4 linked regions of the Homo sapiens genome follow. The protein of the gene in region 3 interacts with the protein of the main gene of each other region in a pairwise test. Each region holds a gene or a part of one and is shown on either strand. Other genes may lie near its edges.

Region 1 (3,500 bases), 9.8 Mb from region 3:
CATTAAACAGAAAAACTCATTCCAGAAGGATAGCAGTTTTTTGGCTTGTTGCATTTGAATTAAGAACTTGGAGGCTGTCTGTGAAATGACAGCACTGAAGAAGAGGCTTCTTCTCTGTACAGTGAAATAATTATACTCTGAGATGTAGTGATTTTAAAGAACCTGCATACAAATGCCATTTTACAAAGAATTGTGTCTTATGCTTCAATTGATGGTTTCACAAAATGCCATTAAAAATGGACGATCAGATTTGTCTTTCCCATTTTTTTGAGATCTAGCAATATTGAACTTCGTCCTCATCTCAGCAGAGCACAGGAATTTGTGTCATTCATTTCCTCTTGCATGCAGGATACAGACTGTACATAGTCATTAAAAGACAGGTTTACAAATTGCCTCTTGCTACTTCACAGGTTTAACAATGAAAGCACAAGTGACATGCAGGTTGCATGCAAGCAGATGTGTTCAGCATTAAGAATGTGTTTCTCTGCATAGTGTGATGGTTATGTCATTATTCACTCCTGCACTTCAAAACAAAGACGCTAAAAGGGAAAAAGTAAGTGTGGCATTTGGGTGATAGCACTGAGAATCTATTGACAGAGAGTTCCACAAAATGCCGATCACTGAAGATAACCACTTATCTACATCCAGTAGGATTTGCTTTCATGGTGAAATGGTGTGTGTGTTCACTTCAAGTGACAGCGAATAATACACACTTGAATGCTATAGAAGCTATCCAAGGGAAAAGGAGGCTTTAGGAGTCTACAGGCTGGAGAAGGGTCAGTGATGAGCATACAGAAAAAGATAAAACAGTGGGGTCCAATTATCCTACCAATGTCTGACTTGCTTTCCCTTTGATCTGGTTGAACACTACTGTATTTTTTTTTTTTTTCAGAGACACTAATGAGAATGTATCCTGGGGAAATCTTGGAGCATAAGGTGGACCAGGGTCCACAGTAGAAATTTCTCTGCCTAGGAAATTTGTGAAAAATACATTTGAGGAACACAATCAAATGAGAAAGGAAATCCATTATAGTATGTGTTCAATTATAATGATCTATATTTTGGTGGTAGAAGAAAACCTCAAGGAGATTACTGTATTTCCTTTCCTTAGCAAACTGGCTGCTCTGGATTAATACAGTAATAAGAGAGTTCTCTATAAGTAGAAAGCCATTCAAATTGGCATCCATAAGCTTTAGTTTAATGAATCGTAATAAGAAGAATGGCTACTATTTTCAGGTGCTTCCAATGTAAGGCATTTTCACATATTTCATTTAATCTTCAGAAGATTCCCACAAGGAAAAATTTTATTGTACTAATTTGATGGATTTGGAAACTGAGGTTCAAAAAACGAAGTAACTTGCCCAAAAGTGCTTTTCTGTTAAGTTGTAGGTCTGGGTGTTTCAGCATCCTGGATTGTTTTCTTATAATGGATATCCATTGGGATTCTTAGTTTCCAGCCATGGGTGAAATACAGCAATGAAGGGAGTAGGAAAGTACTCAAGTCTCTATCATTATATAGAAAGTAAACCACCAGCATGGACTCAGCTGAGGCTCATAGATTGCCTGTGCTACTTAATGTAGACCACCTGTTTGATTTCCTGAATGTGGTCTATGTAATAGGTTTTTGAACTGGGGCTCTCACTCCTGATCAGAAGCCAACGTGAAGAAGGCTTGGTTTGGGGGCTGCAGGGTACCTGTTGGTGTGCGAGTTGTTGTGCATGAACCAGCTCCGGTTATTGTCCACATACATTGCCCAAGCTTTGTCGTCTTTTCCTAACATCACATCCTTCATCACGTCCATGCGAGCCACACCAAAGGCAGGATCAGGGTGGTTGTCATAGCGATCTACCGTGAGCTCCCAGTAGTGGATGCCCTTGGAGAAGCCAGTCTTCCCTAGCACCACCCGGTCATCATAGCTACTACAGGTCACTGTCAGGTTGTCATTGGAGAGGATGATGTCCGAGTGCGCCGAGCCAGGGTCGAAAGCAAACCAGGCCACTGGGAACAACAGAAGGGAATCAGGTTATTAAGACAGACCCAACAAGCTCAGCACCATAACATACTCCTGGGCGGGTGAGGAGCGTTGTGTAGCGTTTTCATGCTGCCATGCAGGAAGGAGGCGTCCAGGGCCAGGGCAGACAGGGGCACGTCCTGGGAGTTGGTACTCTCTGCACCAGAAGCAGACGGAGGACACACGACCGATTCAGCAGGGGTTACCTGGCTCAGACTGCACTCCCAACCAGGTGATCCGGGAGTGAAGTGGCATCGATTTTGGAAGGTGCAAGTCCCTTCACCTGGTGACTGGCAGAACAGTGCACCAGAGACATAAAGGGAGAGGGGATGCGCTAAGATGCCTGTGTAACCCCTGAGGCGGGGAGGCTAGGAGCTAGAGTCCTAGATGGAGGAGGGATAAAACACATGGAGTGAAATCAGGAAATATCCCTTCGGCAGAAGTGCTAACATCTAGTCGCTTTGAAGTCTTCCTCGGCTCTAGTGAAAGCTCACAAGCTGCGAAGCTATAAGCAACATAAACTAATTTTCATGAGTGATTGTGACTTGCATGTAGGACAGGTTGCTGTCTGCATAACTTAAAAAACACAGTTTGCGTGCTACTCCTGAAACTAACACGTCAGAAATTTTGCTGGAGCAGTAGGAATTTCGGACATTAGGTGCAGATAGAATGATGTCTTTGTACGCATTGTTACGCCCCAAGTTCTAAATGCCACCTATAAATATCACACTCGAGAGATGTAATTGCTGATTTATTAAACCTGTGAGACACCTCACATGCACTTTGGTCTTTGCTATTTGGTAACAGAATAAGGTTATTCCATACCTGCCAACAGCTTTTTAATGTCAACTGTTGTCATTCCAAGTGAAAGGCATGGGGGAGAGAGATAGGAAGCAAAATTGACATGGATAAGAAAATGTGTCTCTCTTGATAGACTAGTACCCCAAAAGGACTCAATTTAAAATGCCACATATACTAAACAGGTGCTCTCTGACTTGTACCTTTACCCACATTTAGTGCTCATAAAGAGTGCTTTGCACTGATGTAAAAGAAAACTGGGGGAAAAGTAAGGTTTGAGGCATAACATTAAACACTACAGGCATCTTTTCCATTTTTTAAGAGTTTGAGAAACTGCTATAATAGGGTTAGAATGACAATTAGACAATTTTATTGACATAAGACAAGTTGCCGCCATTTATTTTGTGAAGGAAATTGAGCACACCAATCACGTAAGTAAAAGATAATTACAATAGGTATACTTGCCTAATTGAGAGTAAGGTGCAGATTGTGTCTCAAAATTGCATCCTATAAAGAGATACTACACATCAACGCTATGAAACAACAACCAGGTTGATAAAAATTACTTGTATACGCTTAAAAAGCACCAGTTGAATATAGATACCAGAGGCCTGATCCATGAAAAAACAAAGCCCTTTTTATATTATTTAGTTTGTTGGGTAAAAAACTGCCCCTCTGCTCTTTCAAAATG
Region 2 (3,500 bases), on a different chromosome or scaffold from region 3:
ATTACAGGCGTGAGCCACTGCACCTGGCCAAGAGACCCCTTTTGTTTGCTCCTCAAGGTTTCAGGTTTCAAGAACTAAGAGAGGGCAATGTGACATGGCTCACCCTGTAAATCCAACACTTTGGGTGGCTGAGGCAGGAGGATCACTTGAACCGAGGAGTTTGAAACCAGCCTCAGCAACATAGTGAGACCCTGTCTCAACTAAAAAAATTTAAAAATTTTTTAAAATACCCCAGTGTAGTAGCATGCATCTGTAGTCTCAGCTACTGAGGAGGCTGTGGCAGAAGGATTACTTGAATCTGGGAGGTGGAGGCTACAGTGAGCCATGATTGTACTACTACACTCCAGACTGGGCAACAGAATAAGAGACTGTCTCAAAACAAACAAAAAACCAGAAAACATTAAAAAACAAACAAACAAACAGCACTGAGGTTCTTTACCAAAACTCGAGAAGCATCAGGAAGCTTCAGGAGTCTGACTGTCAGCATTTCCCTTTGTGAGTATTTCCCTGGGCTGTTCTATAGTTTGGGTTTAATTTGCTTCCCCTAGAAGGCTGGACTCTAAACACAGCCCTCCAGAGGAGCACAGCTTAGCCTCAGTGGACTTGTTCTTGGCTGTAACTGCCTCGTCTAGATGGCAGGAATCCTCAGGTGGCTGTGGCTGCTATGTGCTGTGAGGCCTTGGCTTGTACAGGGAGCGGGGACACACAGAAAGGACTCTGCTTCTGTTTACCTTTGTAGTCCTGACCCAGTTCCAGGCTGAGGTTATGAGCCTCAGCACATCTAACCCAAGAGCAGCCTCCTGCCCCTGACTCTGTGTGACAATACAGAAGTCACTTAAGTACTGAGCCTCAGTGTATCCATCTGTAAAATGGGAAGAGTGATACTTACCTTTAAGGGTTTCTAAGCAGGTCATGTGAAAGAATTATGGGAAAAGTGCTAAGCACAAGCCTGGTACACAGACGGAAATCTAGGAGAGAACCCACAACCCCTGGTTTCCAAATCCAGTGAGTGTCCAAACCACAAACAAAGAGTTAAATTCAAAAGTGGCAGCAAAAGAGGAAGTGAGCAGAACCAGCCACAGTGACACACGTGCTACAGAGTTCAACAACATCGTCACAGGGCAGTACCTGGAGGACTTGCTCTCCTATAGATCCATGGAAGGCAACTACAGCAGCGCTGGGAAGACAACCAGCAGGGCACAGAGGTGACTGCGAGGCTGGAATGAAGCAACCTGAATTACAGGCAAATCAATACTATTAATGATTATGTATGGTGAAAGTCCATCACAACAGAGTTCAGTGGCCTCTGTCAGTAGTGACATTAATGGGACAGAAATAAAACCCCCAGTCTATAAGACCCAAGAGTAAACAAAACAGGGATATAACGTCCACTCATTGAGGGTCTAGTACAATAATACATAAAAAGTGTTTTATAACGTAAAAGGACTACATAAATATAAGAGATTCTTATAGTGCTGATAATAAATTCCAACTGGAAGCACTAATGGATCTAGGTATGTGTGACTTTAAGAGACATAATGAGGGGAAAATCAAGCACCTTCAAAGCTCAAATGAAGGATTCAAGGAATTTAACTGTCAAGTGAAAGTAATATCAAGTTCCTACATGTTAGTAATGCTGGTAGAAATGCTAGGAATTGGCCGGGCACGGTGGCTCACACCTGTAATCCCAACACTTTGGGAGGCCGAGGCAGGTGAATCACAATGTCAGGAGATTGAGACCATCCTGGCTAACACGGTGAAACCCCATCTCTACTAAAAATACAAAAATTATCCAGGTGTGGTAGCATGCACCTGTAGTCCCAGCTACTCAGGAGGCTGAGGCAGGAGAATCAATCACCTCAACCCGGGAGGCAGAGGTTGCAGTGAGCCGAGATCGTGCCATTGCACTCCAGCCTGGGTGACAGAGTGAGACTCCATCTCAAAAAAAAAAAAAGAAAGAAATGCTAGGAATTGCCTGGTCCAACTCCTTGGCTTTACTGTTGAGGAAATAAGCCTGGCTCAGCAGTTTTTCAGTTGTAACATACTGCAAGTGTTTGGAAAGAGGAAAAAGGAGTGGTACTGGGCGTGTCTGTGGGCTTTCAAGCCCTTTATCATGCCTCTTTGCCAAATGGCCTAGAAGTTTAAAAGCTGAGGTTTTTCTTTGTTGAAGGATAGCCTGTGTTATCTTTGGGTTGGGAACTTATTTTGCAATTTACTTGCAAAATAAGAACAATAAAAGGACTATGAAGAGCTCAGCTACAGCTCTTCTTCCATGCAAAACAGGACACCTCATCACCCAGGCTCCATGCTGGGGTTTGATGGTCTCTAAACCTCCTGAAACTGTCTAAAAATTATTGCATATGTACTAGATACCTAAAATTGTCTGGGGATTACAGAAGAATAACCTTCTGTAAGATTAATCAGCAAATAAGTAGAAGAGGGATAACAGAATTAGAAAATCATTTTGCGACTGCCATTATAATAGCACAAGGATCATCAATAGATGCTAAAACTATTAGGTGAAAAGTTTTGGGGGATGAGATAGTACCCATGGTGCCAAAGCACCAATGAATGGATTACTTCCTGACATACCTTCATAAGGAAGAGATCCAGTGGTTATCTTAACTAAGTGACCAAATCCAGCGTCATCAGCAGACGGGGCAAAGTGGCATGTGCTTTCTGGCATGGCACTATATGAATCACACAACATTACCTATGAAGTGTTTGTGCCAAAAATGTTTGACTTGAATGAATCTAGTCAAGACTTTAGATCTAACTTCCAGTTTATAAAAAATATAAAGGAAAGGAATACTCTGAAGTATGTTATAACTGAAAAAGTACCGATGGAGGAATTAAACCACACCATAAGGAAAGAACCAGATAAATCCAGAATGCTGGACATTGCACATGGCAACTGGCCTAGTCTTTTAAAAAGTCAATGTCATAAAAAAAAACCTTCGAAAGAACTGCTTTTGATTTTTACAGACTAAAGAGAAATAATAACCAAATGCAATACGTGAACCTTGATTGGATCCTGTAAAAAGAAAAAAAAGGTTATAAAAATAGTCTTGGAACTATTGTGGGAAATTTGTAAGTAGGCTGGGTGTTAGATCATATTAAAAAATTATTTCCTCTCTTTCTTTTTTTTTTTTTTTTTTTTGAGACAGGGTCTTACTCTGTCCCCCAGAGTGCAGTGGAACTATCTGGGCTCACTGCAACCTCGGCCTCCCTGGCTCAAGCAATCTTCTCATCTCAGGCTCCCGAGTTGCTGCAACAACAGGTGCATACTACCACACTTGGCTAATTTTTAAAGGTTTTTGTAGAGAAGAGTTGCCACTATATTGCCCAGGCTGGTCTCAAACTCCTAGGCTCAAGCCATCCTCCCACCTCAGCCTCCCAAAGTGCTGGGATTATAGGCATGAGCAACTGCACCATGTCTAAAATTATTTTCTTAATGGTATTTACTGAGGTTATGTATGAGAATGCCTATACTTCTTATT
Region 3 (3,500 bases):
TACCTTGCAGAAGTTATACAAACAATAAAAGAGCCGCTAGGCGGATTGATAAAGTATTATTGGTTATGTACCTAGAAAGATGCTGCTAAAACACTGGTTACCTGGGTTGAAATGTATACCACCAAAAATAAAAATAAACATATCAATTATTTCTCATAATAACAGATAAAAGGAAACCCAAAACTATTAACAAAGAGTAAAGAGTAAAGCCTAAATTGTAAATGAAAAAGACAGATTAATAATATATAGGTATATATATACATATATACACACATATATTTACTATGCCCATGTGTGTATATCTATATACACAAAAATACACATACCAAAATAAACTATAGCTAACACGTAATTTTCTCTAATAGCCTTCAAACTTCAACTTAATGTTACCTCCTCTGCCCACACCTGACATCATTGACCACAGCAACACTGAGTCACTAACTATATAGCACTATTCTCAATCTATAATAAATAACATTTGTTTTGGTTTACTTGTTTTTTTGTCTTTTTGCTATCCTATGCTACTGTATGGTAAGTCTCATGAGGACAGAGTTCATAGCTGTTTTACTCATCACTTCATAACTACTGCTTAACATGCATAACATGTTTACACATAGTAGTGTTTACACATAGTAGGTACTCAATACATAGTAGGTACTCAATACATGTTTATTAATCAAAGAATAAATACAAATGAATAATGAAGCCATCAATCAAGAGGCTCTTCTTTAACAAAGATAAATAATATTACTCAGTTCTCTAAGAACTTAAATGAATTTATAGTTATTTACTTGCTAATCTGTCCACATTTATGAGCAAATAATAATCAATTACTGACATAATTGTTAAAGTCCTCTTTGTTGACTGAATCATTCGAGCAGGAATACTTACATCTTTAGCACTTTTTTCCTGATCTCAACCTCCTTGTCAACAGTGGGATCTTCAAAGAGTTGTACCCTGAAGTTGCTCTTTCTGAGTGGAGTACCACACTCAGGGCAGTTTCCAGCTCCTCTCACAAACAGTAAATCTACACAACTTTCACAGCTGTAAGGACAGAAATAAAACATAACATTTAAGCCAATGTTCAAATCTACAACACATCTGAATAGTTTGCCCCTATGGGATAAGGAGAGTGAGACTTGAAAACTAGTCACTTCTATTTAAAATCTTACCAAAAAACTTTCTGGAAAATGTTCTTTTTCATTTGGAGCTTACTTTTCAGATATAGGTATCCCAAGTGATACCAGTTTAGTTTTACAGATCAAACAAATTTATAAATTAAAACAAATTGAGTGAGAGACTAGGAAGAAGAGCAGGATAGGGAGAAGTCAAAGAGCATGTAAAAGGCTACTGTATGGTCACCTCCATCCCCAGTCCCAATATCATCCATAGACCTGGGCAAGAGAAGCCTCTGCCAGGGGCCTGCTCTTTAGAGAGCCCTATATACCCCAAGCACTAAAACAGATGTTTTTTTCTTCCTTTCCTTGTAAGAATGTCTTTTGAAAGTTCAGTAATCAACTGAGCAAATGACAATTACAAGAAAGAGGTGCTAGCTGAATGAGGCCTCACTGGCCAGAGGATAAAGAACTTTGAGCGCTCCAGTATGTGTGAGGGAGAAAATGAACACAACTTCTGCCATGAGAAATCCCAGAAAGAGTGGCTGCTTATAAAAGCTTTATTCGGTTAAAGTTCGTTGCCCCAAATAAAGCAAACCGAATTCCCAGGCAAGCCAGGTTTCCCAGATACCTGCATCCCCTTTTCTGGTAGTGCAACATTAAGAAGGGCTTACAACTTCCTAGAAGACTTGAGTTGAAAAAACAATGAACTGGAGAGGCAAACCTCTCTATAACCAGATTCCTGGGGACTTGGTGGGATCTGTTAATATACTGTTTTAGATGGGTCTAGGTACCACCCCAATCATCCCTGCCCTACCCCAACAGATCCATACTACCACTCAGTCAGGCAGGTTACAAAGATGGATGGGAGGAGAGAGCAGTTCCTTTAGCCTCTGAGTCTTGAGGGTATAGGCTGCTGGCAACTCAACATGCTGTGTAGGAAATCAGGCTGGGCCAAGGATGTGGCTTGATTTATAACTTTTAAATATTCGAATGTTTTGATAAATATTTAAACATTTGTAGTCCTCCAGGTGTAATCTTGCCCAATTCCATATGTGTTAGGACCACACAGTCCTAATCACTCCTTTTGTTGGCAATATCTGACATCATCTTATTTATTTCTGTGTTCTGTCTCCTAGACAAGGAAGTACAGTATATTTCATAAAGACAGAATGTTGCCTATCTTGTTCTCTATCCGCAGTGCCTAACGCTAAGTACTCACTAAGTAAACTTCACAAAACAAAAAAATGAATACAAGACAAAGGGAAAAAGAGAAATTCTAATGAATAGGGAAGAGTTGATTTCTTCCAAGTGTGTATTTAACTTACAGAATAAGCTAAATAAGAAAAGTAATAAGAAAAATAAGAATTTTTAAGGTTATTAGTAAAATACTAACATTGATCTTTAAATATATACATACACACACAGACATATATATACACACATATGTATATATATACCTATTTTATATATATATATATATATTTTTTTTTTTTTTTTTTTTTTTTTGAGAATGCAGTGAAGTTGTCACAGCTCTCTGCAGCCTTGCCCTCCCAGATTCAGGCAATCGTCCTACATCAGGCTCCTCAGTAGCTGGGATAACAAGCACACACTGTCACGCTCTGCTAATTTTTTTATTTTTTTGTAGAGACTGGGACTCCCCATGTTGCTCAGGCTGGTCTCGAACTCCTGGGCTCAAGCGATCCTCCTGCCTTGACCTCCCAAGGTTCTGGGATTATAGGCATGAGCCACCACTCCTGGCCTATATTTCTATCTTAATAGTGTCACTAAAAAATAACAGGGAAAAATTCCAAAGATCATAGTGTCATTAGCAAGATCAACTAAACCCCAGATAAACCACTCTGGACTTAGGAAGTTTCAGAGTGGTGCATTTTCACTATTCTTTGTGGTTAGAGGAAATTAAACCCATCCATGGAAGGTGAAAACAGGCAAACTTTACAACTATACTAACTAAAGATATTTATAAGTAAGCATCTATCCAAAATAGTCAAAATTACAGAGCCACAAATAACATTAATATATCTCAAGGTCTTGGAGATTAGACTCAATCAATAGTTTAGTCAGCAAGGTAATATAGAACATTAATATTTCTAAACGTTATATTGTATATTAGACATAATATATTGTTTCCAAAATCAGTTGTACATCTCCACTTTTTATAATCTGCCTTGTCATAATAATTTAAATAGTATTAAAATTTTTTATTGCAGTTTATTTTCCTACGTAACATTTTCCATTTCTAATTTTAACTGTGAAAAGAATATTTTTTCTTTAAAGCTTATAAAATATAGAATTATATAGAAAAATAACTCAAAGTTCTACTTCATTGTGTTCTGTATCTCACTTCCCACGGGTAATATGCTA
Region 4 (3,500 bases), on a different chromosome or scaffold from region 3:
TTATGGACATAGATGTTATCTGAAGATGCCCCACCCCTCCTTCCCAAGGCTCAATCAACTAGCTTCTTTCCAAATAATTAAATGGGGCAAACTTTCTATTAGAAAATATCTACCATACATCACTAAAAAAAGGTCTGTCATTGATTCCCTAATGAAATATCAGTTAATTACTTAACCTTTCTTAATGAAATGATTAACATTTCAACAAACAAGGCGGAATGACTTCGCATCAAGCTGTAGATTACCAGTGACAGTGGTAACTATGTGTCCTCTACCATTGCGCCGTCTATTCTTTCAATCAGCTCCATGTTTCATCTTTTATAGAAATTCTTTATGCAGTAGTAGAGACACTCTACTTTTAAAATTTGGCCCATAAGAGTTTTTTTTAAGTGCCTCAGGGTCAGAACAGAAATTTTAAAAGTTTTTATTAGACGAATATCCCCAATGCTACCTAAACCTACAGAAAAGCAAACTGTGAAGTTCTAAACGTAAAAACAATTGCCAACTTTTTGGCAGCTATTAAAATAAAGCCACACCTAAAGCCAAAATGGAAATTAAAAATTAGGTGTGGGCATTATGGACACATTATTACCGGGTAACTTCAAAAGCCACATTATTAATACAGATGAAAAAATGTCTCAACAACTTTTATTTAAATAACTCTTTTGATCTTAGTGGTTAGATCTTTAGTTGAAGCCCTGAATATTTAAATAAGCCTCCTTAACATTTTATCTTCCTTTATTTCATAATCTTGTAGGATGCCTTCTTCTTAGGATTCTGGTTTCTTTATTTGTGTGGCATCGTTGGCTAGGCTATTTCCATCAATATTCGTGCATGCCCCATCACATACGATAGAGAATTTCCCAAGATGCTTGGGAAAATCAAAATACTTCTGCCAGCAGGGTTAATCCAAAGAGCAAACAGTTACAATTTTAAAATTAAGATGGAATACTCAGAAAAAAAAATTCTAGAGAGTCATCTGACACTAATTGGTAGCTACAGCATGACAACACCCATTGGGAAACATGGATGCAGGCAAGACAAAATTCAAAAGGAAATTATCTGATATTGACATTTGGTGAAAACCACCGATGTTCCAGGTTGTTCCTATCACGTTATTGAACTGTGAGGCTCTTGTTCTGCCTCTGTTTCTCTAAGTCTCCAAGGTTTCTTTTTGTGCCCTCCTGAAAAAGGAGCTCCGTTTTCTTCTCTTAGGTTTCACAATGGCCAACCAATTCAATTAAACTCTTAAGAAGGGTTGCAGGCTTTCCTCCAACTCTGATAATTGACAGGTCCAGTTTTCCCACTTTGGTGGGCATCAGGACCATGTGGGATGCGATTTAAAAACACAGATGCTGGCCCCACCCCAGATACGGCACATCCAGGAGTCGTGCAACTGTGTCTGTGTTGGGAACAACAGCTCTGCTGTGATTCCAATACTCGTGCTTGGTTAAAAACCACCGTTTTTCATTCGTAATAAAAATCCAAATACATTAAAAACAACACAGGATGGGCCTCAAGGTAAAATCAAAGAAATCATCAGTAAAATCCAAGTGAAGATAGAGATTTCAGTTCCACACATCTGAAAGAATAAATCACTTGATTCACAGGTCTCTAGCATGCATCAGAATTATCAAGGGAAGTTTGTTATAAATGTACGTTACCATGTCAATCAGCAAAAATTCTGACTCAAGGATCTGTATTTTAATAACCTACACACACACACATACACACACACACACACAGATACAGAGGTAGGTGAGCGAGGACCTCACTTTGAACCAGGCTGAATTAGGACCAACTGCAACCTCCCTTCACTTCAGACATGAGCATTCACTTCCATCTCTGTGCTCACCCCCAGGAGGGGAAGCCACCAGTGCCACTGGTCATCAGGAGGTAGGCACCAGGGCAAAAGAAACTCAAGCAAAACTCACATCACACCCTCCCCCAACAAAAGCTGCGGTCACTGTCCTGAGAGCACCAAGAATATCTTTTAAAAATGTGAGTAATAACAAAGCCCTGTATCATTGGATCCCTAAGCTCAAAGAACATATGTTAAAATATTACCCCTAATTCAAAAGCAGGGAACCTGGAGCAGAGAAAGTCACATTATGACTCAATTGCACAGCTGGGAGGGAGAAAGGACACCTCGGAAATTCAGTTTGATGCTAGAAATATTCTTCAGTGTCCTAGTAAACAAAGTGAATCACAAAATTAGCTAAAATCAGAGCATCTGGTAAAATGTGGATGTCCACCTGACTTACAAGTAATAAATAAATATATGTCCAAACATAAAACTCAGAGAAAATGTTTGTCCTAAGCAAATCTATTCTATTGAACATAAACAAGGCCCAATAATCCCACATTCAGATCCATTTTTCCCTCAGTAAATTGTCCTATAACATGCTAGCCTCTGATATCTTCAAACTGTTGAAATCAAACAGAATGACATGGGCTTTCTATTCAATGATCCCATTTCAGCTATTTATCTGAATTAGCAGCAGTTTGAGGAAATACACTCATCACAACATGATTCTGAGTATAGAGAAGTAAATAGTAAACAGAACACTGGAACACAACTGTGTATGTATTCATATTCCTTTTTAAAAAAAAAACTATTTTATTAAAAATACAATTTGGAAGGAAAGTGCAATTAGCTTTGCACAGGCACTGCTGAGATGTTCCCGAACACAGCAGACATATGTAAATATTTCGTGATATCAGTTCCATTTGAGTAGACCTGTCAAGATATTTACAGGGCTTGACAGTACTTCTGTCTTTAATTAAATTTTTGCCCAGATACTTTAATATAATTTAAATAGATTATTAGTTGTCAGAATCGAATATAAATTTTGTTTACGATTTAGTTACTTTAAGTACTCAGACTGAAGGAACTAATTTAACCCTACAACTGAGCAGCTTTAAGCATCAAGGCCAAACCACTAGAAAGCTCCCACTGCCCTTTGCACTCTACCAATAACCTTAAATTATTACAACTGAATTGTAAATTTCATGGCACTAAACTGAGCCCCCCTCCCCTCCTTTTGAAATAAAACAGCTTGGGGAGGGTCATGAGGAAACACCCATTTACACCTGTTCAGGTACTAGGTAGGTTCTCCCTTTCAGGCACTCGTTCTCACAGCGGCTGGCTAGATAGGAAACATTTTTTTCTCACTCTAAGTCCCATAAAATAACTACCGAACAAACACCTGTTGTGTACAAGGCAGGGCATGTATTAAAGACTGGCATCAGGGCATTGCAAAAAGAAAAACAAGCCTTGCAGAGACATCCACAAGCCAATCTGGTCAATAGATTTCACGACTGGGTAAAACAACAGTGCGTGCGAAGAACACAGCTTCTGGCACAACCTTCTTGTGAATGGCAGCTGACTTCTAAACAAGGATTGAAAAATGCCTTAGCACAAACTGACTGTAATTAATAAGAATAATTTATTAAAGAAACAAAGAACACTGTCTAATTGTCTTTCCTGACTGCCATGC

The links. Proteins that work in one complex are often made in the same cells at the same time.
Region 1: the proteins of MNAT1 (region 3) and TRIM9 interact in a two-hybrid assay, tested with the Homo sapiens proteins (one large-scale study listed by BioGRID and IntAct).
Region 2: the proteins of MNAT1 (region 3) and TRIM26 interact in a two-hybrid assay, tested with the Homo sapiens proteins (one large-scale study listed by BioGRID and IntAct).
Region 4: the proteins of MNAT1 (region 3) and FOXP1 interact in a two-hybrid assay, tested with the Homo sapiens proteins (one large-scale study listed by BioGRID and IntAct).

The regions. Positions count from the first base shown.
Region 1 is NC_000014.9:50,980,106-50,983,605, forward strand, and holds part of TRIM9 (E3 ubiquitin-protein ligase TRIM9), read right to left. Parts: exon of another isoform or gene 3,317-3,500; coding exon 3,275-3,316; exon of another isoform or gene 3,177-3,274; intron 2,861-3,176; coding exon 2,837-2,860; intron 2,395-2,836; exon of another isoform or gene 2,218-2,394; intron 1,999-2,217; coding exon 1,695-1,998; intron 1-1,694. UniProt on the Homo sapiens protein: E3 ubiquitin-protein ligase which ubiquitinates itself in cooperation with an E2 enzyme UBE2D2/UBC4 and serves as a targeting signal for proteasomal degradation.
Region 2 is NC_000006.12:30,199,907-30,203,406, forward strand, and holds part of TRIM26 (tripartite motif-containing protein 26), read right to left. Parts: intron 1,233-3,500; 5' UTR 1,129-1,232; intron 1-1,128.
Region 3 is NC_000014.9:60,793,761-60,797,260, reverse strand, and holds part of MNAT1 (CDK-activating kinase assembly factor MAT1), read right to left. Parts: intron 1,045-3,500; coding exon 892-1,044; intron 1-891.
Region 4 is NC_000003.12:71,573,729-71,577,228, forward strand, and holds part of FOXP1 (forkhead box protein P1), read right to left. Parts: intron 1-3,500. UniProt on the Homo sapiens protein: Transcriptional repressor. Can act with CTBP1 to synergistically repress transcription but CTPBP1 is not essential. Plays an important role in the specification and differentiation of lung epithelium.